Linked DNA regions of Homo sapiens. The protein of the gene in region 2 interacts with the protein of the main gene of each other region in a pairwise test. Each region holds a gene or a part of one and is shown on either strand. Other genes may lie near its edges. The genes, in order: STAU1, PRKRA, EHHADH, ADARB1, ZFP28, RIGI and PNPT1.

What was found.
Region 1: the proteins of PRKRA (region 2) and STAU1 interact in binary tests that used the Homo sapiens proteins (3 or more experiments, as listed by UniProt).
Region 3: the proteins of PRKRA (region 2) and EHHADH interact in binary tests that used the Homo sapiens proteins (3 or more experiments, as listed by UniProt).
Region 4: the proteins of PRKRA (region 2) and ADARB1 interact in binary tests that used the Homo sapiens proteins (3 or more experiments, as listed by UniProt).
Region 5: the proteins of PRKRA (region 2) and ZFP28 interact in a two-hybrid assay, tested with the Homo sapiens proteins (one large-scale study listed by BioGRID and IntAct).
Region 6: the proteins of PRKRA (region 2) and RIGI interact in binary tests that used the Homo sapiens proteins (3 or more experiments, as listed by UniProt).
Region 7: the proteins of PRKRA (region 2) and PNPT1 interact in a two-hybrid assay, tested with the Homo sapiens proteins (one large-scale study listed by BioGRID).

Annotation. Positions count from the first base shown.
Region 1 is NC_000020.11:49,153,835-49,157,334, reverse strand, and holds part of STAU1 (double-stranded RNA-binding protein Staufen homolog 1), read left to right. Parts: intron 1-3,263; coding exon 3,264-3,402; intron 3,403-3,500. UniProt on the Homo sapiens protein: Binds double-stranded RNA (regardless of the sequence) and tubulin.
Region 2 is NC_000002.12:178,441,176-178,444,675, reverse strand, and holds part of PRKRA (interferon-inducible double-stranded RNA-dependent protein kinase activator A), read left to right. Parts: intron 1-175; coding exon 176-254; intron 255-1,291; coding exon 1,292-1,409; intron 1,410-2,971; coding exon 2,972-3,066; intron 3,067-3,500. UniProt on the Homo sapiens protein: Activates EIF2AK2/PKR in the absence of double-stranded RNA (dsRNA), leading to phosphorylation of EIF2S1/EFI2-alpha and inhibition of translation and induction of apoptosis.
Region 3 is NC_000003.12:185,192,587-185,195,049, reverse strand, and holds part of EHHADH (peroxisomal bifunctional enzyme), read left to right. Parts: intron 1-1,562; coding exon 1,563-2,463. UniProt on the Homo sapiens protein: Peroxisomal trifunctional enzyme possessing 2-enoyl-CoA hydratase, 3-hydroxyacyl-CoA dehydrogenase, and delta 3, delta 2-enoyl-CoA isomerase activities. Catalyzes two of the four reactions of the long chain fatty acids peroxisomal beta-oxidation pathway.
Region 4 is NC_000021.9:45,175,580-45,179,079, forward strand, and holds part of ADARB1 (double-stranded RNA-specific editase 1), read left to right. Parts: intron 1-150; coding exon 151-1,085; intron 1,086-3,500. UniProt on the Homo sapiens protein: Catalyzes the hydrolytic deamination of adenosine to inosine in double-stranded RNA (dsRNA) referred to as A-to-I RNA editing.
Region 5 is NC_000019.10:56,537,678-56,541,747, forward strand, and holds the start of ZFP28 (zinc finger protein 28 homolog), read left to right. Parts: upstream 1-1,270; 5' UTR 1,271-1,341; coding exon 1,342-1,549; intron 1,550-1,568; exon of another isoform or gene 1,569-1,843; intron 1,844-1,947; coding exon 1,948-2,039; intron 2,040-4,070. UniProt on the Homo sapiens protein: May be involved in transcriptional regulation. May have a role in embryonic development.
Region 6 is NC_000009.12:32,481,197-32,484,696, reverse strand, and holds part of RIGI (antiviral innate immune response receptor RIG-I), read left to right. Parts: exon of another isoform or gene 1-3,199; coding exon 3,200-3,357; exon of another isoform or gene 3,358-3,500.
Region 7 is NC_000002.12:55,634,845-55,638,344, forward strand, and holds part of PNPT1 (polyribonucleotide nucleotidyltransferase 1, mitochondrial precursor), read right to left. Parts: intron 2,756-3,500; coding exon 2,708-2,755; intron 1,549-2,707; coding exon 1,393-1,548; 3' UTR 1-1,392. UniProt on the Homo sapiens protein: RNA-binding protein implicated in numerous RNA metabolic processes. Catalyzes the phosphorolysis of single-stranded polyribonucleotides processively in the 3'-to-5' direction. Mitochondrial intermembrane factor with RNA-processing exoribonulease activity.

The DNA.
Region 1 (3,500 bases), on a different chromosome or scaffold from region 2:
AAACTGAAAAAAAGGGTGGTTATGTTTTCAAACAAGAGCCCACAAACACATTGCAGCATCAAAACAAACATTGTCTTAATTTGTGTGAAGTACTGCTGTGTGTTTAAATCAAGTTTGCAAAATATCTTTCATGAGAAGTAATTGGAAGAGAATTTTGAGGCTGGACGTGGTGGGTCATGCCTGTAATCCCAGCACTTTGGGAGACTGAGGCAGGTGGATCACTTGAGGTCAGGAGTTCGAGACCAGCCTGGCCAACATGGTGAAACCCTGTCTCTACTAAAAGTACAGAAATTAGCCGGGCATGGTGGCAGGTGCCTGTAATCCCAGCTACTCGGGAGACTGAGGCAGGAGAATTTCTTGAACCCAGGAGGTGGAGGTTGCATTGAGCCAAGATCACACCACTGCACTCTAACCTGGGGACAGAGTGAGACTGTGTCTCTTAAAAAAAAAAAAAAATTTCAGTGCATACACACACAATCTCTTTTTTTTGTTGTTGTTTATAAAAAACAACAAAAAAGGATAAGAAGGGGATGACAGGATGAATTATCAAGATAAGACCAGGCCTCTTAAACCATGACCATAGAAAGTGTTCAAGGTTCAAGTGACATATTACAGTCAATGTCAGGTTTCATGAATTTGAGAGCTCACACTTTTCATTTCTAGGAATTTACAGTACTGCTGACACTTGGAAATCAGCAATGGGGAGCTGAGTGAACTGGTATTAAAAAGGTCAAACACACAGCTGCTGCTAAAGCTTTGGAGGGAACAAAATTTCCTAAGCCCATAGTCAGCCCTTTTGGTAGCGAAGGAAGGAATCCAGGTCTTATGCATGGGCCAAACAGGTACCTTTCAAAAGTGTGTCTAGAGGTACCATGTAGTATGTATATGAATGGTTTCTTAACTTGTTGATTTTGAAAGCACAGATTCTACACTACCAGTGACAAATGCTTATTTTTTAGGAATCCTTAACCTCATTGTAAAGCAGTGGTTTCCAATCTATGATGCCTTAACGCCTGACAATCTGGAAAGGCGGTCATAGGAAGGATGGCGGGTGACCAGATAATTTCAAAGATTTCCGAAGTTTAATGAAAATATATTTTTGATAAGAGTGTATAGATTAGCAAGAATATAAGTTTAATTTAGAGTCACATCAAGTCAGTGTGGTAATATTGATTGTAATTTTGTTGGTCAGAAGTGCTTATTGCCAGTTGTATGTCTCTTAGTTATTAAAAAGAATGAGAAAAATGTAAATATTACTTAAATACAAGCCAGCAGGTAGTATCTCCTCAGACAAGGAGCCCATTCAGGGAGCATACTAATCAAGAAGGCATGGCTGGTGAAGGGTTGGGGATCAGTGACCTGGAGGCTGTGTCATTAATGGCTGTTTTAGCAGAGACCCCCTCACATGCATGAAGTCATCCCAGGTCTTCGTATGTAGGAAGGAATCTGGGAAGTTACCAGTCACATCTTTCTTGTTACTTTTGATTTCTTTGCAGTATACTTTCTTCATGTTTATTCTCTATTGCAGACAAATTCTGTGGATCAGAGCTGCTCTTAAAATGATTCAGACTGTACTTAAAATGCAATTATATGAATTTTGTAAAAAATATAATTCTAATGCAAGGAAGAGAGAGATCTGTAATTCATGTGGCCCTCTGTGCAAACCCCAAAGATATTCTTATAGATTTGATTCATGCATTAAATTTAGTTGAACCAGTTATAGTACAGAATCAGGTCTTTTTTATTTCTCTCTATATACATCCTAAAGAGGCATTTTAAAGTGGATTTTTATGTGCATTTAGATTTTGCCATTTCTAGTGTTCTGTTTTTGATATGAAAGTGTTGTTTTTAAATATTGTGCACTGACACTAATCTTTCCAGGCTGGTTTTCTTTTTAAATGGTTTTTAAAGGTTTATGGATTGGATGAACTGAAAGAAAAAAAAATTGGAAAATGAATAGCATGTATTTTCTGAAGTTGATAATTTTGAGATAACTTGTTGTGTATGAAAATGGAACTCATTTTCGTAGCAAGTATGACCACAGGTCAAATTCATTAGAAATGTCAAGAATGGAAATACCTGAATATTTTGTGGGCCTTGTGTGACTTCTGTGAAGAGAATTGGGTTGCCACCTCCTCACTGATTTTTCACCTTTAAGTTGCACATCATGTTGTATTGTAACTCTTTGAGTGTGCTTTGTGTTTTTTGAACTCCTCTGGGGCAGGAATTGTGTTTCTTTTTTTTTTTTAAGACAGAGTTTTGCTCTTGTTTCCTCATCTGGAGTACAGTGACGCAATCTCGACTCACTGCAACCTCTGCTTCCTGGGTTCAGGCGATTCTCCTGCCTCAGCCTCCTGAGTAGATGGGATTACAGGCATGCGCCACCATGCCTGGCTAATTTTTTGTATTTTTAGTAGAAACGGGGTTTCACCGTGTTAGCCAGGCTGGTCTCGAACTCCTGACCTCAGGTGATCCACCCGCCTCGGCCTTCCAAAGTGCTGGGATTACAGGTGTGAGCCACCCTCACTGCAAGGTCCGCCTCCCAGGTTCACACCATTCTTCTGCCTCAGCCTCCTGAGTAGCTGGGACTGCAGGCACCCGCCACCATGCCTGGCTAATTTTTTGTATTTTTTAGTAGAGATAGGGTTTCACCATGTTAGCCAAGATGGTCTCGATACCCTGACCTTGTGATCCTCCTGCCTTGGCCTCCCAAAGTGCTGGGATTACAGGCGTGAGCCACCACGCCTGGCCAGGAATTGTGTTTCTTAAGCTTAGCACAGTGCTTTGCATCCAGTTAGTAATGTAATAAATGCATCGTTCAATACTGTGTACGGACATACTTCTGAGTGCAAGCCAATAATCCTGTAAATCAGTACAACCAAGGTTATATTGATTAAGTATTCTCAAACAGTAAAACAATTTGGACATTTACATGGGATTTTTTAATCGTGAAATTTGATGTGTTTTGGAACTTATTTCTGACAGCTGTACCATATAGCTTTCACTGATAATGTCTTGGGTTAAATTGTGGCTCCTCTGGTAACCCTCAGAGTAGATTTTGTGCTGTCGACTGTGTATAAATATCTAGAAATCACAGCATATTCTTGGATTTCCTTGTCTGATGCCTAGCAGTGAGCCACCCAGGTCCTTTTATGTAAAGTATCATGAATCCAATTAGCAGAAAGCATGCTATTACATTTTATTTTAGTGAGTATCATTCTCATACCAGAAAAAAACAGTTCTTTGTCGATTCTTTCTTGCAGAAAGCATAACCCCTACTGTAGAACTAAATGCACTGTGCATGAAACTTGGAAAAAAACCAATGTATAAGCCTGTTGACCCTTACTCTCGGATGCAGTCCACCTATAACTACAACATGAGAGGAGGTGCTTATCCCCCGAGGTATGTGTTTTTTTTTTTTTTTTTTTGTAAAATACAGGAGAAAACGTGTCTGATCTTTTACATAAACCAGTACCTCTAGATTGTGGAGGGAGTAATGA
Region 2 (3,500 bases):
GATATATCTTGGATGACCGATCAGATTCCCATAGAAGAGGTCTGAGAAAAGGGCATTCCATGTAGAAGGAATGACAAGAGCAAAGACATAGAGAGTTAATTAGAAAATGCTTGTCATTTATTTCATAATTCGGGGGAAATTATTTTGTTTTATAACACTTTTAAAAAATATTTAGCTTTGCAGTTCCTGACCCCTTAATGCCTGACCCTTCCAAGCAACCAAAGAACCAGCTTAATCCTATTGGTTCATTACAGGTAAGTTGTACAGTTCTTTGCCTACTGATGAAATATATAATAAGTTTGTAATGTCAGAGGGGCTAACACAAGGAATTAATATTTTAAAGACAAGATAGTGATATATTTTGTTTTCCAACTTACGATCATTAGATTAACAGAGCTAACTTGAAATTATTTTCCTATTTATGTTCTGGGTTTTCTTTCATATACAGTATTTGCCTTTGGCTTATAGAATTCTCATTTAAGATCAACAGGCCCTCAGTGCACATGGGTAAAGTGTTTTATACTTTAAGAATAGTTCTTGCTACTCTTGTGACAAATCTCTTTCTACTTCTGTTGAGACAGAAGACTTTATAGAGAGCCTAAATCAAATCAGTGAACCTAACTGAAGAAAAGGAGTCTATTTGCTTATTCTACCAAAAAAAAAAAATTTTATCTATACACACACAAACACACACACATATATTCAGCTTTGAATTTCTATATGCAGAATATCCTTCTTGCAGATTATCCATGTGCTCTGTTAGGCCATTTCCCTCCCCATTATTCAGCCAGTCCTTTGGTCTCCTTTTCCTGCACAGTGAGCTTTTCTATAGTTTTCTTCACCTTCTGTCCCCCACTTTATGCAAGTCTGTTGTTTGCTGTCCCTACTCCTCATGTGTTCTTGGCCAGCTGTGGGTTTGGAAGTCTATAGCTAGGAGGGGAGGGACTTTAGGAACTGATGGCAGTGAAACCTGTAGATGGTCTCCTCTGGTGTTGCCAAAGAGGGCGGTAGTAGCCTGTTTTTCTAGTTGATGTCTGATACCAGCTCACTGTGGTTTAATGCAAGAACACCATTCGTAGCACAAAACTGCTTCAGTTTTGGTATTGGGGTATAAAAATATAAAATGCGGGAATGTCTTTGAGAAATAGAGGGTCTTCCCTCTTTTTTCTGTTGCAGAATATCACTATTCTTTTCAAACATATACATAGAAATGGGATCAAAATTAAGAAAACACTTATGTGATTGAGCCATTGCATAAAATTACTATTAAAGCCTCATCTTGATTTTATAGGAATTGGCTATTCATCATGGCTGGAGACTTCCTGAATATACCCTTTCCCAGGAGGGAGGACCTGCTCATAAGAGAGAATATACTACAATTTGCAGGCTAGAGTCATTTATGGAAACTGGTACTTATTTCTTACAATTAAAGGCATTTGAAATATTTTCAGATGATGAATGACTATCGAAATTTCTGTCGTAATGTTTTCAAATATTTCTATGCAGAAAAATTGATACACTCCTCTTTTATTGTCTCTGACTTTCTGAGGTTGAACTTAAGTATAAATATTTGGCTTAAGATACTTAGTCTTCTTAATTTGATATTTTTAAAAATCATAGATTATTAATAGAAAGACAAACTGTTGGCTCTGTACTTTAAACAGTCTTCATTGATAAATTACTGACTTAAAAAACCTCAATTTGGAGAAAAAGCTATAGTAAATCTCTTGGATTTTAACAGCTATTCTATCTAGAAAATAGGACTAGAGGAAGATTACACTTGAAAATTATATGATTAATAAGAGACTACATGGCAAATAATTGCAGTGAGATAAAAATGAAAATTATCTTTCTTAATTATAGCAACTTCTATGTTATAAAGGATATAAACTATAAGAAACGCTGTCACTTTAAAAAGTACTAGCGAGAATTCCTGTTAACTTCTCTGGCATGTTTTTGTTATTTTCAAAAGTGGCTTAAAATGGGATTTTAGCTTAGCTAGATAATAGTTTCAAGTAATAAGAAACTATTTGCCTTTGGGAGGTAGTGTGGCCAGTACAGAAAGCACCAGGCCAAAAGCAGGAACCTCAGCTTCCGTCCTTGATGCAGTCCTTGATTCGCGAAGTTAAGCAAATTACTTAATTTCTCTGGACCTCAGTTTTTTAATCTATAAAACAAAAGCATGGAGGTAGATATTTATGGTATCTTTCAACTCCACCATCCCCTGTGCCTTTCTTATTCCTGTTAAAAGGAATTTCATATAATCGTCAGTTTAGAGAAGATCATAAGCAGGAAATAGACATTGAGAGAGAGGAGTTATAATTCAGATGTATTTTAATAAATCTAAATAATTGGTCAGAATTAAACCAAATATGGTTCAGTAATGCTAGACATAGGAAAATACAATTATTATAGAAAAACAGAAAGCATAACTATTAAAGAAAAACTTAAAACAAATGTCTTCAAAAGTGTAAGAATTAGTAACTATACAGGCCTGGCACAGTGGCTCACACTGATAATCCCAGCCCTTTGGGAGGCTGAGGTGGGCCGATCATATGAGGTAAGGAGTTTGAGACCAGCCTGGCCAACATGGCAAAACCCTGTCTGTACTAAATACAAAAAATCAGCCAGGTGTGGTGGTGGGCACCTGTAATCCCATCTACTTGGGAGGCTGAAGCAGGAGAATTGCTTGAACCCAGGAGGCGGAGGTTGCAGTGAGCCAAGATGGTGCCACTGCACTCCAGCCTGGTGACAAAGTGAGGGTCCGTCTCAAAAAAAAAAAAAAAAAGAATTAATAGCTATACAAACAAAATAGCATAACAAACAAAGTTATCAGGTCAGTAAGAACATAGTCTAGTATATAATAAAAACCGTGAGGTTCTCTGATTAAACACAGTACTTCATACGTTTGATCATCCTCTGTGGACACTAATTTCTTTTCTAAATCTACCATTTCTTTTTCTTTGTTCAGGAAAGGGGGCATCAAAAAAGCAAGCCAAAAGGAATGCTGCTGAGAAATTTCTTGCCAAATTTAGTAATATTTCTCCAGAGAACCACATTTCTTTAGTGAGTAATGTTGACAGCTATGATGTTAATGTCATTAAGCATTTCTTGCAGTAGGAAACTTTCCTTGATTTCTTATTCTATAGCTACTTCAGAGTTGTGATTTTTAGAAATCTCTTCATTATTCAGTTATACCCTACCCCATTTTTAGCTGCTTCCTGTTTGTGAGTCAGGATCACAGAGGCAATTAGGTAAGAGAGCTTGGGAGACACAGTCAAATTCAGAATAATAGGACGGGATCTAAAGATGATAGGCCAGTAGTGCCATTTTTGCCTTCAAAGTGACAGCGCATTTCCATCCCTTTGTTTGTTCATTCATTCACTTAGCAAACATTTAGTGAGCTCATACTGTGTGCTAAGTGTTGTGTTGGGTACTGGGGTGCAGTGAATAAGCAGTCCCTGCCTCTAAGGAGTTTATAGACTACTGAAAGGAAGGAA
Region 3 (2,463 bases), on a different chromosome or scaffold from region 2:
GTCCAACTTCATTCTTTTGCATGTGGATATCCAGTTGTCCCAGCATCATTTGTTGAAAAGACTATACTTTCTCTGTTGAATGTTCTTGGCACTCTTGTTAAAAATCAATTGGCCATAATTGTGTGGGTTTGCTTTTGGCTATCAGTTCTATTCTGCTAATCTATATGTCTATCCTTTTGCAATGACCACTATCTTACACTGTCTTAAATACTATAGGCTTCTTTTTTTTTTTTTTTTTTTTTTTTTTTTGAGACAGGGTCTCACTCTGTCACATAGGCTGGAGTGCAGTAGTGTGATCATAGCTCACTGCAATCCTCAAACTCCTGGGCTCAAGATATCCTCCTGCTTCAGCTTCCCAAATAGCTGTGACTATAGGCATGCACCATCATGCCTGGCTAATTTTTGTTGTTGTTGTTGTTGTTGTTGTTGTTGTTGTTGTTACAGAGTTTCAATCTTGTTGCCCAGGCTGGAGTGCAATGGTGCGATCTTGGCTCACTGCAACCTCTGCCACCTGGGTTCAAGTGATTCTCCTGCCTCAGCCTCCCAAGTAGTGGGGATTACAGGCATGCACCACCACACCCAGCTGATTTTGTATTTTTAGTAGAGACGGGTTTTCTCCATGTTGGTCAGGCTGGTCTTGAAATCCTGACCTCAGGTGATCTGCCCACCTCGGCCTCCCAGAGTGCTGGGATTACAAGTGTGAGCCATTGCACCTGGCCCCCTGGCTAATTTTTAATTTTTTATAGAGTTGGAGTCTCACTGTGTTGCCTGGGCTGGTCTCAAACTCCTGGTTCCAAGTGATCCTCTCACCTTGGCCTCCCAAAGTGCTGGGATTACAGGCACGAGCCACCTCACCCAACCTTGAATAGTTTTGTCATACAATTTGAAATTGGGAAGAGTGAATCCTCCAACTTTGTTCTTTTTCAGTATTGTTTTGGCTCTTCTGGATTTCTTGCATTTCTATGTGAATTTTAGGATCAGCTTATTGATTCTGCAAAAAACCAGCTGGGATTTTTATAGGAATTGTGTTGGTTCTTCACATCAATTTGGGTAGTATTACCACCTTAACAATATTAAGTTGTCTGATACAAAAACATTTAATGTTTTTCCATTTATTTGGTCTTACTTAATTTCTATTAACAATGTTTTGTACTTTTTAGTGTACAAATCCTCCTATTCTTTGTTAAATTTCTTCCTGTGTATTATTCTTTTTGATGCTATTGTAAGTAGAATTGTTTCTTTTAATTTTATATTCAGATTGTTTATTTCTAATATATAGAAATATACTTGATTTTTGTATATCAATTGTGTACCTACAATCTCGTTGGACTCATTTATTAGTTTGTATAGCTTCTATTTGTGTGTGTGAATCTGACTAATTTTTATATCCTCTGAAACACTTAAGAGAGTGCAGAGTCTTAACTAGTACTCAATCCATTTGTGTTTCTTGACTCAATCTCTTTAAATGCCACATTGTCACATAAGCCTTCCATCCAGTGAATAATTTATCAGTTCCCAATACCACTGAATCATTCTTTTTCTCCTTTGATTTTTATCTGCAGGCTTGGGAACAATGGGCCGAGGCATTGTCATTTCTTTTGCAAGGGCCAGGATTCCTGTGATTGCTGTAGACTCGGACAAAAACCAGCTAGCAACTGCAAACAAGATGATAACCTCTGTCTTGGAAAAAGAAGCCTCCAAAATGCAACAGAGCGGCCACCCTTGGTCAGGACCAAAACCCAGGTTAACTTCATCTGTGAAGGAGCTTGGTGGTGTAGATTTAGTCATTGAAGCAGTATTTGAGGAAATGAGCCTGAAGAAGCAGGTCTTTGCTGAACTCTCAGCTGTGTGCAAACCAGAAGCATTTTTGTGCACTAATACTTCAGCCCTGGATGTTGATGAGATTGCTTCTTCCACTGATCGTCCTCACTTGGTCATTGGCACCCACTTCTTTTCGCCAGCTCATGTCATGAAGTTGTTAGAGGTTATTCCCAGCCAATACTCTTCCCCCACTACCATTGCCACTGTTATGAACTTATCAAAAAAGATTAAAAAGATTGGAGTCGTTGTAGGCAACTGTTTTGGATTTGTGGGGAATCGAATGTTGAATCCTTACTACAATCAGGCATATTTCTTGTTAGAAGAAGGCAGCAAACCAGAGGAGGTAGATCAGGTGCTGGAAGAGTTTGGTTTTAAAATGGGACCTTTTAGAGTGTCTGATCTTGCTGGGTTGGATGTGGGCTGGAAATCTAGAAAGGGGCAAGGTCTTACTGGACCTACATTGCTTCCAGGAACTCCTGCCCGAAAAAGGGGTAATAGGAGGTACTGCCCAATTCCTGATGTGCTCTGTGAATTAGGACGATTTGGCCAGAAGACAGGTAAGGGTTGGTATCAATATGACAAGCCATTGGGTAGGATTCACAAACCTGATCCCTGGCTTTCCAAATTCCTATCACGGTATAG
Region 4 (3,500 bases), on a different chromosome or scaffold from region 2:
GTATAACTCTTCATGTATACATCAAGGAATAAAATTTATAAGCACACATCACTTAACCAGTTACAAAGAGAGCTAAAGGAATCTATAAATTTTGCATTTACAAGATCCTGCAACGAAGGCATTGTAAGTTACTCTTTCTGGGCACCACAGGTTCCAGCAGCACTGATGTGAAGGAAAACCGCAATCTGGACAACGTGTCCCCCAAGGATGGCAGCACACCTGGGCCTGGCGAGGGCTCTCAGCTCTCCAATGGGGGTGGTGGTGGCCCCGGCAGAAAGCGGCCCCTGGAGGAGGGCAGCAATGGCCACTCCAAGTACCGCCTGAAGAAAAGGAGGAAAACACCAGGGCCCGTCCTCCCCAAGAACGCCCTGATGCAGCTGAATGAGATCAAGCCTGGTTTGCAGTACACACTCCTGTCCCAGACTGGGCCCGTGCACGCGCCTTTGTTTGTCATGTCTGTGGAGGTGAATGGCCAGGTTTTTGAGGGCTCTGGTCCCACAAAGAAAAAGGCAAAACTCCATGCTGCTGAGAAGGCCTTGAGGTCTTTCGTTCAGTTTCCTAATGCCTCTGAGGCCCACCTGGCCATGGGGAGGACCCTGTCTGTCAACACGGACTTCACATCTGACCAGGCCGACTTCCCTGACACGCTCTTCAATGGTTTTGAAACTCCTGACAAGGCGGAGCCTCCCTTTTACGTGGGCTCCAATGGGGATGACTCCTTCAGTTCCAGCGGGGACCTCAGCTTGTCTGCTTCCCCGGTGCCTGCCAGCCTAGCCCAGCCTCCTCTCCCTGTCTTACCACCATTCCCACCCCCGAGTGGGAAGAATCCCGTGATGATCTTGAACGAACTGCGCCCAGGACTCAAGTATGACTTCCTCTCCGAGAGCGGGGAGAGCCATGCCAAGAGCTTCGTCATGTCTGTGGTCGTGGATGGTCAGTTCTTTGAAGGCTCGGGGAGAAACAAGAAGCTTGCCAAGGCCCGGGCTGCGCAGTCTGCCCTGGCCGCCATTTTTAACTTGCACTTGGATCAGACGCCATCTCGCCAGCCTATTCCCAGTGAGGGTCTTCAGCTGCATTTACCGCAGGTGAGGAACTATGCTGCTGCTTTAAAACACGGGGTCATTGCTCTTGGTAATGCTTCTAGACAGCATTTTAGTTTCAGGATTACTGTTGACTTTCCACCTTGACATCACTCTGTCCCCACCAGGAGGAGTTACTGGTAAGTCTGGCTGCTTGATTTCCATGGCCATGTGGCCACTGAGAAGCCGTCTGCATCCTAGTGCATGCTGGGTCTGTCGCAATGCAAGGCAGGGACACCTGAGACCCCGTCCACCAGAGCAGTGTTTACAACACTATCCATAACTCCCTTCCCGTTAGGCAACCCCCCCCATGACCCTCATCCCACAGCAAGCCTTTAGCAGGAGAGACGGAAGAAGAGCCCAGTCTTTGAAACCTTGCCCCCAGTTCAGCACCATTTTCCTTCAAAGGTCTCATCCAAGAATCTCACATTCAAGATAAGTGACACCAGCCCGTCAGCAGCTGAAAACCCAAGTCTGGGTCAAGATGGCAGCCTCTGGGCTCCCACATGACTGGCTGGTGGCTGTTTGCTGTTCCTAAGCCGAGGAGCCCATCAAAGCAGCGAATGAGCCAGCACAGCAGTGAGCACCTATCAGAGCGCAGGGAGGGAGGGGCCTCCAACAACTGTTCTAGGGCCTGCCAGTTGCCTGGGAGTCTCTACTTTGAATTTCCTACATGGGCTGTATGAGGACTTCCCCGCATGCCCAGGCTGGAGGTGGACAGCCACCCTTCCATTTGACCTCCCCAGCGCAGTGAAATCAGGATGAAGGAAGGGGAAGTTCCAGGGTGGGCTTAGATTGGCTTACGTGAAAGAGAAAAAGTAAAGGAGAAAATCACCTTTAGTTCTCATCTCTAAATCCTAAAACTCTCTGATTATGTATTCCTTCTTTTCTTGGAAATCCAAAGTTCTTCTGGTCTATTGCAAAAGTTATTTTTTTGACCCTCTATTCATTTATTACTTTGTATCAGAGTCTTCTTCACTTTGAAGATAACATGTATACTACCCTTGACCACAAGACTTGAAGGTGGCTTGTGTTCCCCTGGAAGAATCCAAGTGTCTTATAGTTTCTTTTTTGCTGTTGGCTACAATTAGAACAACCTCTGTGCAGTTGTAGTCTGAGATGACCAGGAGTTCTGTTTTAAAGGAAGGAAATGTATTTTATTTTGCCTAAAGGAATCAAATGCAACATCAGTATAAAATAATATATTCAAGGTATTTCACTGATTTTTTTAACGAACCAAATACTTGCTTCCCTTATTAACCTCTCGTCAACATTGTTTATAAGGATTATTAGTCCATTTGTACTTTAACAAATCAGTGCTACTAGATCCCATGTGATTTTTTATTTTCAGGATTACTCTTTGCTAAAATATTAAAGCCTGAGTTCAAAATATTGTCTGATGTGACTTGTCTTCCCTTAATATTGACAGAGTGGCATATAAGACCATTGAAATGACATCAAATGCCGTGGATCCCAGATGTCTGAACCTTCAGTGTGTAGGCTAGGAGCACCTTAGGCGGACGCAGATCGAAGTGCCAGTAGAGATGTCACCCCTGCCTCCCTGGCTTGGCTGTGCGCCTGCAGTGACTTCTGTGTGGAGCATGACCAGAGCCCCTGGCTTGGGAAGGCTGGAGGGACATCTGTTGGGCTCCAGCCTGGGGAGGGGTGCAGGTGGGCAGGGCTGCCTCAGCCCCCTGACGCCACGTTCCTCTGGGCTCTGTAGGTGCTGAACACCAGGCTCTAGGCCTCATGTCCAGAACCACTAGGGCATGAGGGGATGGAGCTGCACTTCGAGTCTCTGCCGGAGTGGAACCTGCCACCTTGTGTCTTTGGAGCCCCCAGGATAGCCCCGGAATGTGACGTGTTCCTTGTAGGACCCGGGTGGCCCTCCCAGAAGCAGTCCTTAGGGCTTTGTTGGTGGGCTCTATTGTCCTTCAACAGGAAATTTCCAAATGTGCATTCTAGGATGGGTGGAAAACCCTCACTCTTTTTCTAGAGTAACCCTTGAAGGACGTAGGTCAGTCATCCCTGCGTGTCACTGCAGGTAAATGGTGCTGCCTGGGACTGTGTGGCATGGGTTTAACTCTTAAGAGCATTTTTTTTGTTCTTATATCTGTCCCCCAAATTAAGAGGGAAGTCCTTCATTAACCATACAGGTTAATGAGACCAGTAATCCCCTCAACGGGGTGCTGAGCCCTGGCCATGTGCCTCAGATGTCTGCGTTAACAAGCATCAGCCCCAGCACCAGACCTTCAGAGTGAGGCTCTCGGAACTCACTCTGAAGTTAAAGTTCTTCGCCTCTCTTTGAAAGTTTGGAGATTCGCCTAATCTTATATGAAATGGAAACTTTTATTTCCTCTGGCTTATCCCTAATCTTCTTATGACTTTTTCTTCTCTGTAAACTCGAATGAATCGCCCTTT
Region 5 (4,070 bases), on a different chromosome or scaffold from region 2:
CAGTCACCCTTGGATTCAGAGATAGAAGTCATCTTAATTCCATCACTGAGGCCAGGAGACCTGAAAGAAATCAATTCAAGAGTAAGGAGACCAGGCGTGCAGTGTGACTGGGCGTGCAGAGGTCAGTGCATCTGTGATGACTGGTGTAACAGCATCACTGCCTGTGAGCCAGCAAGGCCCTTGGCTCCCAGGATGAAGCTCTCCAGTTCTGATAAGGCCCCTGGGGGAGAGACCGGTCCTAAACATGTTCAAGAATAAATCCATCAGCTAACTTCAGACCGTGATTCACACAGGAAGGGAACTTTAAGAGGTCGCCAGGGCTGGTATTTTTGAGACGTTAGGCAGCCCTCTCTGAGGCGATGACAAGTGAATGGCATAAAGGAGCCAGCCCAGACGAAAATTTGGGGTTAGACTATTTCGACCCAGGACGTGCAAATACATAGGTTACAAAATGGAAAATGGTATTTTGGAGGATGGGAGGCCCGTGTAGCCAGAGATAATGGGAGAAGGTGAGGGGGCACCCAAAACAATCCCACAAGCTCTCTACATCCCCCTTCCTAGCCCACACACATCACCCATCAGAGTGATCCTCCGGACTCCGGAGGCCCCCAAGATTGCCTTTCCCTTCCCGGTCGGCAGTGACGCTCCCGCAAGGAGCTGACGCCCAGGCCCTTAGCACCTGTCACAGCCAAGCACCCTTTTACTCCGGCCCTGCGGTCCCACCCCTCGCCGCAAGCCCCGCCTCACCCGGTCTGCCGCTGCGCCTGCGCGACTCCCAGAAGCCTTTGGGGGGTGGGTGTGTAGTCAGAGCGGCCTCTGCTTCCGGCCACACCCAGGCCCAGCGTTGGCCACCACTTATGCGGCGGCTGCGGTCCAGGGACAAGTGAGAGCGACCCGCAGAGGGCAGGACGGACGGGCGTTGCATAGGCCCGGGGCCAAACCGTATCTTGCAACCTGAGCTCCGAGGGCCGCCGCATCCGTCCCTGCTTGGGACTACGCTTCCCAGCGGGCATTGCGCCGAGGCCACGCCCGGTTCCGGCGGCGCTGCCTGCGCACTGGAAGTGGGAAGCGCCGGGCTTCTCTAGGCTGAGGGGCGGGGCGGGGCGGGGCGGGGCGGGGCGGGGCGGGGCGGGGCGGGGCGGGGCGGGGCGGGGCAGCGGGGAGGGGTGGGGAGGGGCGGGGCGCGGCCGGGGGCGGGGCGGCTCCGCGGCGCGGCCCAGTGGATGCCGGGCCATGGGGGAGCGCGCGCGGGGCTGTTCGCTGGGCGTGGCGGGCGGGTGTGGCCAGGGGTGTGGGTCTGTGAGGGACCGGTCGGAAGGGCGTCGCGCGGCCTCGGGTGACATGCGGGGGGCGGCGAGCGCGAGTGTCCGCGAGCCGACGCCGCTCCCGGGTAGAGGCGCCCCCCGCACAAAGCCCCGGGCGGGCCGAGGCCCGACTGTAGGGACTCCAGCCACCTTGGCCCTCCCTGCCCGGGGAAGGCCGCGCTCAAGGAATGGCCTCGCATCCAAAGGCCAGCGAGGAGCGGCCCCTACGGGGCCTGGGCACAGAGGTGAGAGTGACAGGTGTTTGGGGCCGAGCGGACAGGGACGAATTCATCTCGGGATGAGATCTGGGAGGGGGTTGGGCTCTCGGGGACCAGTTGCTGGAGAACTGTGCCCCTGGTCTTTGAAGCTGGTGGAGTGGGAGAATCTGAAGATTTGGAAGCTCAACTGATTCAGAGCAGCAAGCCGCGGTAAAAGGGTGTTGACTTTCCCAGGGTGACTCTAACTAGACGCTTTTCCTGTTTTCGTGCTCCCAGGGAGGAAAAAAACCTATCTCCACGTTGTGGCAGTCCCTAGGCAGGGTAATGATCTGATCCCACCTTTTCATGCAGGAAGGGACGTTTCTAGGCTGGTGATTTGGGACTGTGGTGTAGACCTGGTCTCTAGCTACTCCTTTCTCTTTCAGCTCTGCCTTCCAGGGACACTGCTCTTCCCCAGGAGAGAAACAAGAAGCTGGAGGCTGTGGGGACAGGAATTGAACCTAAAGCCATGTCCCAGGTGAGTTGGCATTTCATCTCTTGTCTCTGAAATGCAGTCTTGCTTTTCGGGACTTAATGTTGCTTATTTTCTTGAAAGTTTTCAGTTTAAGAGACCTGTTTGGGCGCGGGTTTCTATTTCTTCACGTTCTAGTGAAGTGATGGGCTACGGGGAAAAGTTTAAACTGCCCGGGGCCTCGATGCCTGCTTCTTCTTCATCCCAATCAGCCTTCATTCTTGATTGATGAAATGATTCAGCCTCTCCCTTGTACCGCTTTTCTCAGAGGGACTCTGATGGAGGAATTGTGCCCCTTGAGGAACACGGCAGACTCTTCTGCTATACATGGTTTGTTTGGTGACCACTTTGTGCCAGCCACTGAGCAAACCAATAGCTAAGCCCTAGTCCCTGCTCTGGAGCTCACAGCCTGTTGACCCAATGTCAAGGAAACAAGCAAGATTCTAGAATGTGATCATCCTTGGGCCAAGTATTATGAGCGAGGACTACAAGGCGCTCCTGGCTTCCAGCCTCCTGTAGCGGAAGGGTAGGCCTATTTACCAAGGAGGTGATTTTTGAGCCTTGCCTTGAAGGGAGAGAAGATGTTTGGGAGGCACAGTAAAGAAAGACAACATTTTAGGGAGAGGAGGCGCAATATGAAAGGCTTTTCCACTTGATTTTGTGGCTTTAAAACATGCCAGTAAATAGTTGTGTTTGTTTCGGTTGGCTTCTCCTATAAATATCATAGCTAGCTCATTAATAGATGAACCATTTCACTTCCACTGAGGCCTCAAAAAATATATGTACAGATGAACCAGCTTCCAGTTGTCCTACCCAAACTGCTCTTGAGTGGGTTACTGTGATCTTCACATTACCAGATGCAGTGCTCAATTCTTAGTCTTTTTTGACTATCATTGGTATTTGAAATAGCTCAGAGGCTGGCAAACTTGTGCTGGATGAGGCCACAGCAGAAAATATGTTAGGCTTTGAAAGTCCTGCTGCATCTACTCCTTTCTGCTCTTATAGAGCTAAAGTAGCCAAAGACAATATGTAAATGAATGGATGGGCTGTGTTCCAGTAAAACTTCAGTTACAAAACAGGTGGCTACCTATCCCTCAAATAGCTCATCCCTGTCCTTCAATAGGCCCCCTTTTTTCCCTTGGCTACTGGGATCTCACACTCATCTGACTTTCATCTTCCTGACTGCTCAGTTTTTGCCACAGTTCTTACCTCCGTGACTTGAACAGAGTGTGCCTCAGCACTCTGCTCATGGCCCTTTCTTTTTTTGTCTGCATGCTGTCTCCTGGGGATAGTAGCCTGTTCCTTGTCTGTACAACCTACCCACATGGTGGCTCCTCCCAGATTCACATTGTGAGCCCAAACCTCTCCTCTGAGCCGCCGGCCTGTGTATCCTGCTCCACTCCTCTGCCTGAGTGTCTGATGGGTAACTCAAGACAGCCTGTCCAGACCCGAAGTCCTGAGAGTCTCCCATAAACCAGCTCCTCCCACAGTTTGAGTCTTAGTCAGTGGCCGTTTCATCCTCTCAGTTACTCAGTCCGGAAGCCTTGTCATGATTGGCTCATTTCTTGCCTTTTCCTTCCATATTTGGTCCTGATGCAAATCCTGTCAGTTCTATTTGCAAATTATGTGCAGAATCTGGCAGTTTTCATCACATCTATCACCAGCAGCAGGTCCAAGTCCTCCTTTTACTGTGGGCTTCTTGACTGTGCTTCTGTGACCTCCTGCTTCTGCTCACGCTCCCCACAGCCCCTTCCCGATGAGCAGCCAGAGGGGTCTATTCAAACATGTCACCTTGTGTCACGCTGTGCTCAGGACCCTCCAGTGGTTTCTCTGAATAAAAGCCAAAACTCTTCCTGTTACTGACCAGGCCCTACATGACCTGGCTCCTTGTTACCCCTGACATCTACATCACTCTCTTCTTTCTGAAAAATCGCCTTCTCATTTTCCTGCTCACCCTGTCTAGAATTTCAGAGCCTCCTACCTGTTCTTCACATCCCTCTTCCCTGCTTTGCTTTTTTCTTTTAGTACTTTTCTTTT
Region 6 (3,500 bases), on a different chromosome or scaffold from region 2:
CTGATTAGTGACGTAATAAAGATACCAGTGAATGAGAAGGACCAAAGAGAGGCAGTAGAGATGGATTGGAGAAGGAAGGAGACACATGTGAGATGCTTCCAACTGTGAGTGTTATGATTGAATGGCTAAACGGATTTGGGTGGGGATGAGAAAGGGGCAGGAGGGGCTGATTTCCCCCCAGGCATCTGGCTTAGGCACCTCTATGAATGCCAGTGGGTGGTCCTGGTACCAGGACTAGAAGCAGCCTTGGCAGGTACAAGGTTTTGAGTTTTGAGTTTTAGGGATGTTAAATGTGACGTCTGTAAGACACCTCATGGAGTGTCTCCTCTCACACTTATTTTGCTTTTCTCTCCCCTTTTCTTTCACAGTTTAATTTCTATTATAATTGTTCTAACAGCCTTCTAGCTGATTTTGCCTACCTCTGCTCTCTCTTCCATTCAACCTCTCATGAACTAGTTAGTCTTCATGAATACATTTTATCATGTCCCTGTCCTGCTTAAAAACCCTTTGCCTACAGGATAATCTTCACGCCTCTAACCTGCAGTCTGAGCCCTGCCTGAACACCCAGGTTCTACTTATCTTTCCAATGTTATATTCTACTACTTCCCTACCTGAATCCTTTTGATTTAGCAGTTTCCCGAATGTGTTCATGCATATGTTCATTCATTTAGTGCTAAGGAATGGGCTAGGTGATGGGAATACAGCATGAACCCTAAGATACAGCCCCTGGCCTCAGGGCATTTCTAGTCTGATGGTAAGACCAAAATTAGAGAAGTAATACTAATACTAAAGCAGCTGGTGTGGTGGGGGTGATAAGGTGTGTTTCAGGCACAGGGAATAGCATATGCAAAGGCCAGGAGACTAGAAAGAGTATAGGGACTTCCATTAGTCCTGTAGAATGCTGAAAGGAGAGTGGCCAGAAATGAGAAGCAAAAGCAAGCAGAGGCCAGAGCATGGGGAGGAGTGTGTGAGCTGGGGCAGGATTTTGGCTGCAGGACCACTAAAGGCTTTTAAGCAGTGGGGTGGGATGATTTCTCATCTGCAATTTTGCAAACTCCCTCTAACCACTGGGTAGAGTATGGGTTAGAGGGAACAAGGCAAGAGGAAGGGAGACCAGTTTGGAGATTGTCATATTATCCAGCAGCACACTGATGTGGTTTGAATTGGGGAAGTAGCAGAAGGATGGAGAGACGGTGATGGAGTCACGTGAGTTTCTATTTTCTTACTCCTCCCACCTCCCGTACCCTGCCTCCACCTTTTTGCCAGTCCGAATCCAGTTAGCTGCTCATCTCTAAACTGCTTAGGCTATTTTTACACCTACCCAGGTTCAATCAGTACCTGTTGGCTCATCTTCTTTACTGCTGGCCACCTCGCTGTAGCTGCAACTTGGAAAGAAGCATGTCAATACTACTTGTTTGGGTAGCCTCCTTTGTTCCTATTATTGAAAATGAATGAGTGAGGGGAAGAATTTAACCCAGAAATACAGCTCTTGCTTGTGACTTTTGTTGTACTGTGCTCTTCATGAGGAGCCCTGGCGAACTGATACCAGAGTAACTCACAGACTCAGCTGCTTGAGAACACAGCCATAGTCTCCTCATCTTATCCCCAGCACCCTACACAGAGCCTGGACCACAGCAGATGCCCCAGCTTTGAACCAAGCAACTGAGGCTTATCCTAGGAGATGCACACAGACAGATGCATGTGTGATAAGTGTCTTTTGAGGGCCGATTCTATGCTTGGCCCTGAGAATGCTGCTCTGGAGAACAGGAGGCCCAAGTTCACAGCAAAGCAGAACATAGGGTGAACTGAGTCCTAAATCTCCTCCTTGATTTTTTTTTTTTTTAAGAGTCTCACTCTGTCGCCAGGCTGGAGTACAGTGACGTGATCTCGGTTCACTGCAACCTCCGTCTCCTGGGTTCAAGCGATTCTCCTGCCTCAGTCTCCTAAGTAGCTGGGACTTCAGGTGCGTGCCACCACCCCCAGCTAATTTTTGTATTTTTAGTAGAAACGGGGTTTCACCCTGTTGGCCAGGGTGATCTCAATCTCTTGACCTCGTGATCCACCCGCCTGGGGCTCCCAAAGTGCTGGGATTACAGGCATGAGCCACTGCGGCCGGCCAATCTCCTGCTTTTATATATCCTCCTCTGATGAAGCTCTTGAGACCTGTTATTTTTACTTCTTCATTTTTAAAGGCAAAGTTGGGTTTTTCATGTCTACTGTTTTATTTCTGGGCTGCTTTGGTTGTCAGCTCATAGAGCCAGTAGAGCTTGGGCATCTGACACATGTGGGTTTGAATTCCTGCCCTTTCTCCACGTACTTGCTGTGTGACTATGGGTAAATTACTTATTACTTGGCTTTTCTGAACTTCAGTTTCCCAATATATGAAATGTAATATGTATCTCATGGGTTGTGAAAATTAAATGAAATTATGAATGTAAGGTACTTTGATTCTTGGTACACAGTACTCAAGAAACAATCAAACACACACACACACACACACACACACACAAACAAACACACAGATGCACTGCTTAAAACTCAAGGGAGGGAACAAGGCAAGAGGTAGGGAGAACAGTTTGGAGGTTGTCATATTATCCAGCAGCACAGTGGTGTTATCTCAATGGGGGAAGGAGCAGAAGGATGGAGAGATGGTGATGGAGTCACATGAGTTTCTATTTTCTTACTCCTCCCACCTCAGGTACCCTGCTTCCACCTTTTCACCAGTCTGAATCCAGTTAAATAGTTTTAACTAGATGACTTAAGACTATTTCAGGAGGAATATCCTGTTTGCAGAGAGTAAGAAAGAAAATTAGGCCAGGTGCAGTGGCTCACGCCTGTAATCCCAGCACTTTGGGAGACCGAGGCAGGCGGATCACCTGAGGTCAGGAGTTTGAAACCAGCTTGACAACATGGTGAAACCCTGTCTCTACTAAAAATACAAAAATTAGCCAGGCGTGATGGCACACGCCTGTAGTCTCAGCTACTTAGCAGGCTGAGGCAGGAGAATCGCTTGAATCCGGGAGGTGGAGGTTGCGGTGAGCCAAGATCGTGCCATTGTACTACAGCCTGGGCATCAGAGCGAGACTCTGCCTCGAGGAAAAAAAAAAAGAAAAAGAAAATTAGAGGGTGAGGCCTGTTTATAACCCTAAATGACTGACCATATGAGACAGTGAAAAACTTTTTTTTTTTTTTTTAACAGAAAACTTATCTCAAATTCAAAATAGGGAATTTGGAACACAGAAATATGAACAATGGATTGTTACAGTTCAGAAAGCATGCATGGTGTTCCAGATGCCAGACAAAGATGAAGAGAGCAGGATTTGTAAAGCCCTGTTTTTATACACTTCACATTTGCGGGTACGTTCCTCTTTTTAAGAGTCGTATTCTGGTCACAGCACCTACTGGGAGTGGCACCGTGGAAGCCAAGATAACATCAACTTCTCATCCTGTCCTCAAGAGCTCACTTAGGAACCTTTCCAGAAAGTTCTTATGAAGCAAAC
Region 7 (3,500 bases), about 120 Mb from region 2:
CATGCCTGGCCAGATATACCTACATTTTTATAAGATTTAAAATTTTTTTTAGAGATAAGAGTCCTGCTATGTTGCCCAGGCTGGAGTACAGTAGCTATTCACAGGTATGATTGTTGCACACTACAGTGTCGAACTTCTGGGCTCTAGTGACCTTCCCACTTCAGCCTTCCAAGTAGCTGGGACTACAGGCACGTACCACTGAGTCCAGTGTATTTTTATAAGATTTTAAAAAAGATTACACATTCTAAATTATGACGTCCACATACCATTTACTTTTCTGTGGAATTATAAGGTGATATTTTAAATGATGGGAATGAACAACTTGACATGTGTATCAGTAACCTCTAAACATCTATTTCAAACATCTATTAACCGAAAGTCATGATCCTTCAGCTCTTATACTAAGAACTTCCATACATTAGAGCAATACACATATTCAAATTGACCTAGTTCAATTTGATAAGTAAACAATTTTTTTTTTTTTTTTGAGACGGAGTTTTGCTCTTGTTGCCTGAGCTGGAGTGCAATGGCGCAATCTCGGCTCACTACAACCTCCACCTCCTGGGTTGAAGTGATTCTTCTGCCTCAGCCTCCTGAGTAGCTAGGATTACAGGCATGCGCCACCACGCCCGGCTAATTTTTGCACTTTTAGTAGAGACGGGGTTTCACCGTGTTAGCCAGGATGGTCTCGATCTCCTGATCTCATGATCCGCCTGCCTTAGCCAATAATCTTTCTGTTTAGGTAAATTTGAAAAATATACATCATTACTACCACATTCATCCTAGTTAGAATCTCATTTATATTTATTCCACTCTGTTTATGATTTGGTAACTAATTTGAAAGGCATTATATTATCAAAAGTGTATCAGATTAGCTCCCTCAACTCACTATATCTGTTAACAGTTCTGAAGAAATAGGCACTGGCTTTGAATATGGCCTGTTCCAGTTTGTGAACCGTTGTAGGCAAGTAAAGTTGTTGGGCACAGAGGTGACCTGTAGGATGACTGAAGGTAAACTGTCACTACTGTATACAAAGAAGAAAAATAAGATGTAGGAAGAGATCTGTTATAATAACATATGACATATTCTATCTAAGTTTTTCATATATTTCAGAATTGTAAAAACAAAACTATGTAATTTTTTCTAAGATGTATAAATGACTTACTTTTAATAATAAATATTTCTTGATTTATAATGTAAATACAATTAAACAAATATGGGTTACTCGAATTAAAAAAATGGCACATGTAAATGAGCATTTTAGTACAAATAATTAAAATGTATTTATATTATATAGAAATCTACACAATGGAAGATACTACTAAAATGTTGCTCTACAGCACATCACCCTAGACAAAATAGAATTCTAGAATTCTCTTTAAAAAAAAAAATCACTGAGAATTAGATGATGACTGTGAAATAGGTTCTCCCATTACAATACTACTTCTGTCATTCAAAGTTCTGACCACGGTTGTAGCTGGCGACTGAAGCACTTTTCGAGAAAGCCTCATTCTTCCATCGGCTGGGTCACGTCCAAAGTATTTCACCTGTGTTAAAGAAACAGATCTTCCTTTAAAGTTACAGCACATTGAGTGACATCTAAACTAATAGACATTTAAATTTACATGGTCCAAATAAGGCAATGATTGTTTTTACTTGTTCACTGAAAGCATTGTTCAGTGCTAAGTGGACGTATACACTTAACACATATAAGTAGTCATTATAAAAGAGAAAAGAGACGGGGCAGTTAGTTGTTCAACTATAATCTGCCGCTGAACTCATCTGTGCCTTTTTATTCTCACCAGGCCAAGTCCTTATACTGGGGGAACAGTCACAGGCATAGTGAATGATCCTAGACAAGGGCTTTGAGAGCCTAATTGTGTTATATACTATAGAGGATTATGCTTAGGTCACTTGGATTTTCACTACTGCTCAAAGGACCAACACATTAGTGTTTATTTGGCTTCACCTTGGAAAATGAAAGTCAGGGGCAAATGCAAAGGTTTAAAGTTCCTTCTGATGTGAAAACAACAACAACAACAACAACAACAAATAAACCAAAAAATCAACCTTATACAGAGATACTATATCTTAGCACTCATCTTCCCCTGGAGGCTACTTGGACAATAAGACTACACATTGGGAATAAACCAGAAGCCTTAGTTACTCAGGTCATGCGTATTAGCGTAAGTGAAAGACAATGTGGTGGAGCCCGAAAAAACAGACTGGCAATGACTTCTTTCATCCACTCATAAAGGACTACAAAGAAAGGGCCAATTTTGTTATATGAATTCTAGGCCTGAATAACATGGCTCTTACCAAGCTCAAAAACTTTAAGTAGTGGAGAAACAAAGTCTCACCTCCTCAAAGATGACATTCAAAGACTTTAACAAGTTACCTTATCACAGTTCTTACGTCAGTGCCCAAATCATGGAGTCTGCATAGCTAACACTAACATGCTCATGTATTTTTTAAACGAACTAAGGGTGACTACCATTTTGGCCAAGCTGCAAGCTCCTTGAGGGAAAGAATTGTGTCTTAAATCCTTAATGAGTCTGTTCAAGCAATTCTAAGATTAAAAATGAAGTACTGCATACAAATAAAAAACTTCATAGATGGTGACTCTTCTTTCAACTTTTTGAAAAAAACAATGGAAGCTTCAAGAACAATTTACAACTTCAAGGCTAAAAGGTGGAATACAAATACCTGAATTTCTTGGCCAACTTCTAATCCTAGGGCAGTAGGATGTTTAATCTGGAAAAAAAAATGTTAATCTATTAGTTGTTGTGCATAATTATGTAGTGTCCATGGAAGTACACATTTTTTCCTCAAGCTTTATTAGTTTTTCTGATTAAAAAAATCAGTTAGCGGCTGGGCGCAGTGGCTCAAGCCTGTAATTCCAGCACTTTGGGAGGCAGAAGCGGGCAGATCAAGAGGTCAGGAGATTGAGACCATCTCTGGAGGTCAGGAGAGTGAAACCCCATCTCTGCTAAAAATGCAAAAAATTAGCCGGGCATGGTGGCGGGCGCCTGTAGTCCCAGCTACTCAGGAGGCTGAGGCAGGAGAATGGCGTGAACCCAGGAGGTGGAGCTTGCAGTGAGCCGAGACCACGCCATTGCACTCCAGCCTGGGTGACAGAGAGAGAATCCGTCTCAAAAAAAAAAAAAAAAAATCAGCTGGGCATGGTGGCTCACGGCTGTAATCCCAGAACTTTGGGAGGCTGGGGCAGGCAGATCACTTGAGCTCCGGAGTTCGAAACCAGTCTGACCAACATGGTGAAACCCTATCTCTACTAAAAATACAAAAACTAGCTGGGTGTCGTGGCACACGCCTGTAGTCCCAGCTACTTGGGAGGCTGAGGCAGGAGAATTGCCTGAATCTGGGAGGCAGAGGTTGCAGTAAGCTGAGATTATGCCACTGCATTCCAGCCTGGGCGACAGAGTCAGACTCTGTCTCAGAAAAAAAAAAAAAAATCAGTTAATTATAAAGATTTAAAATA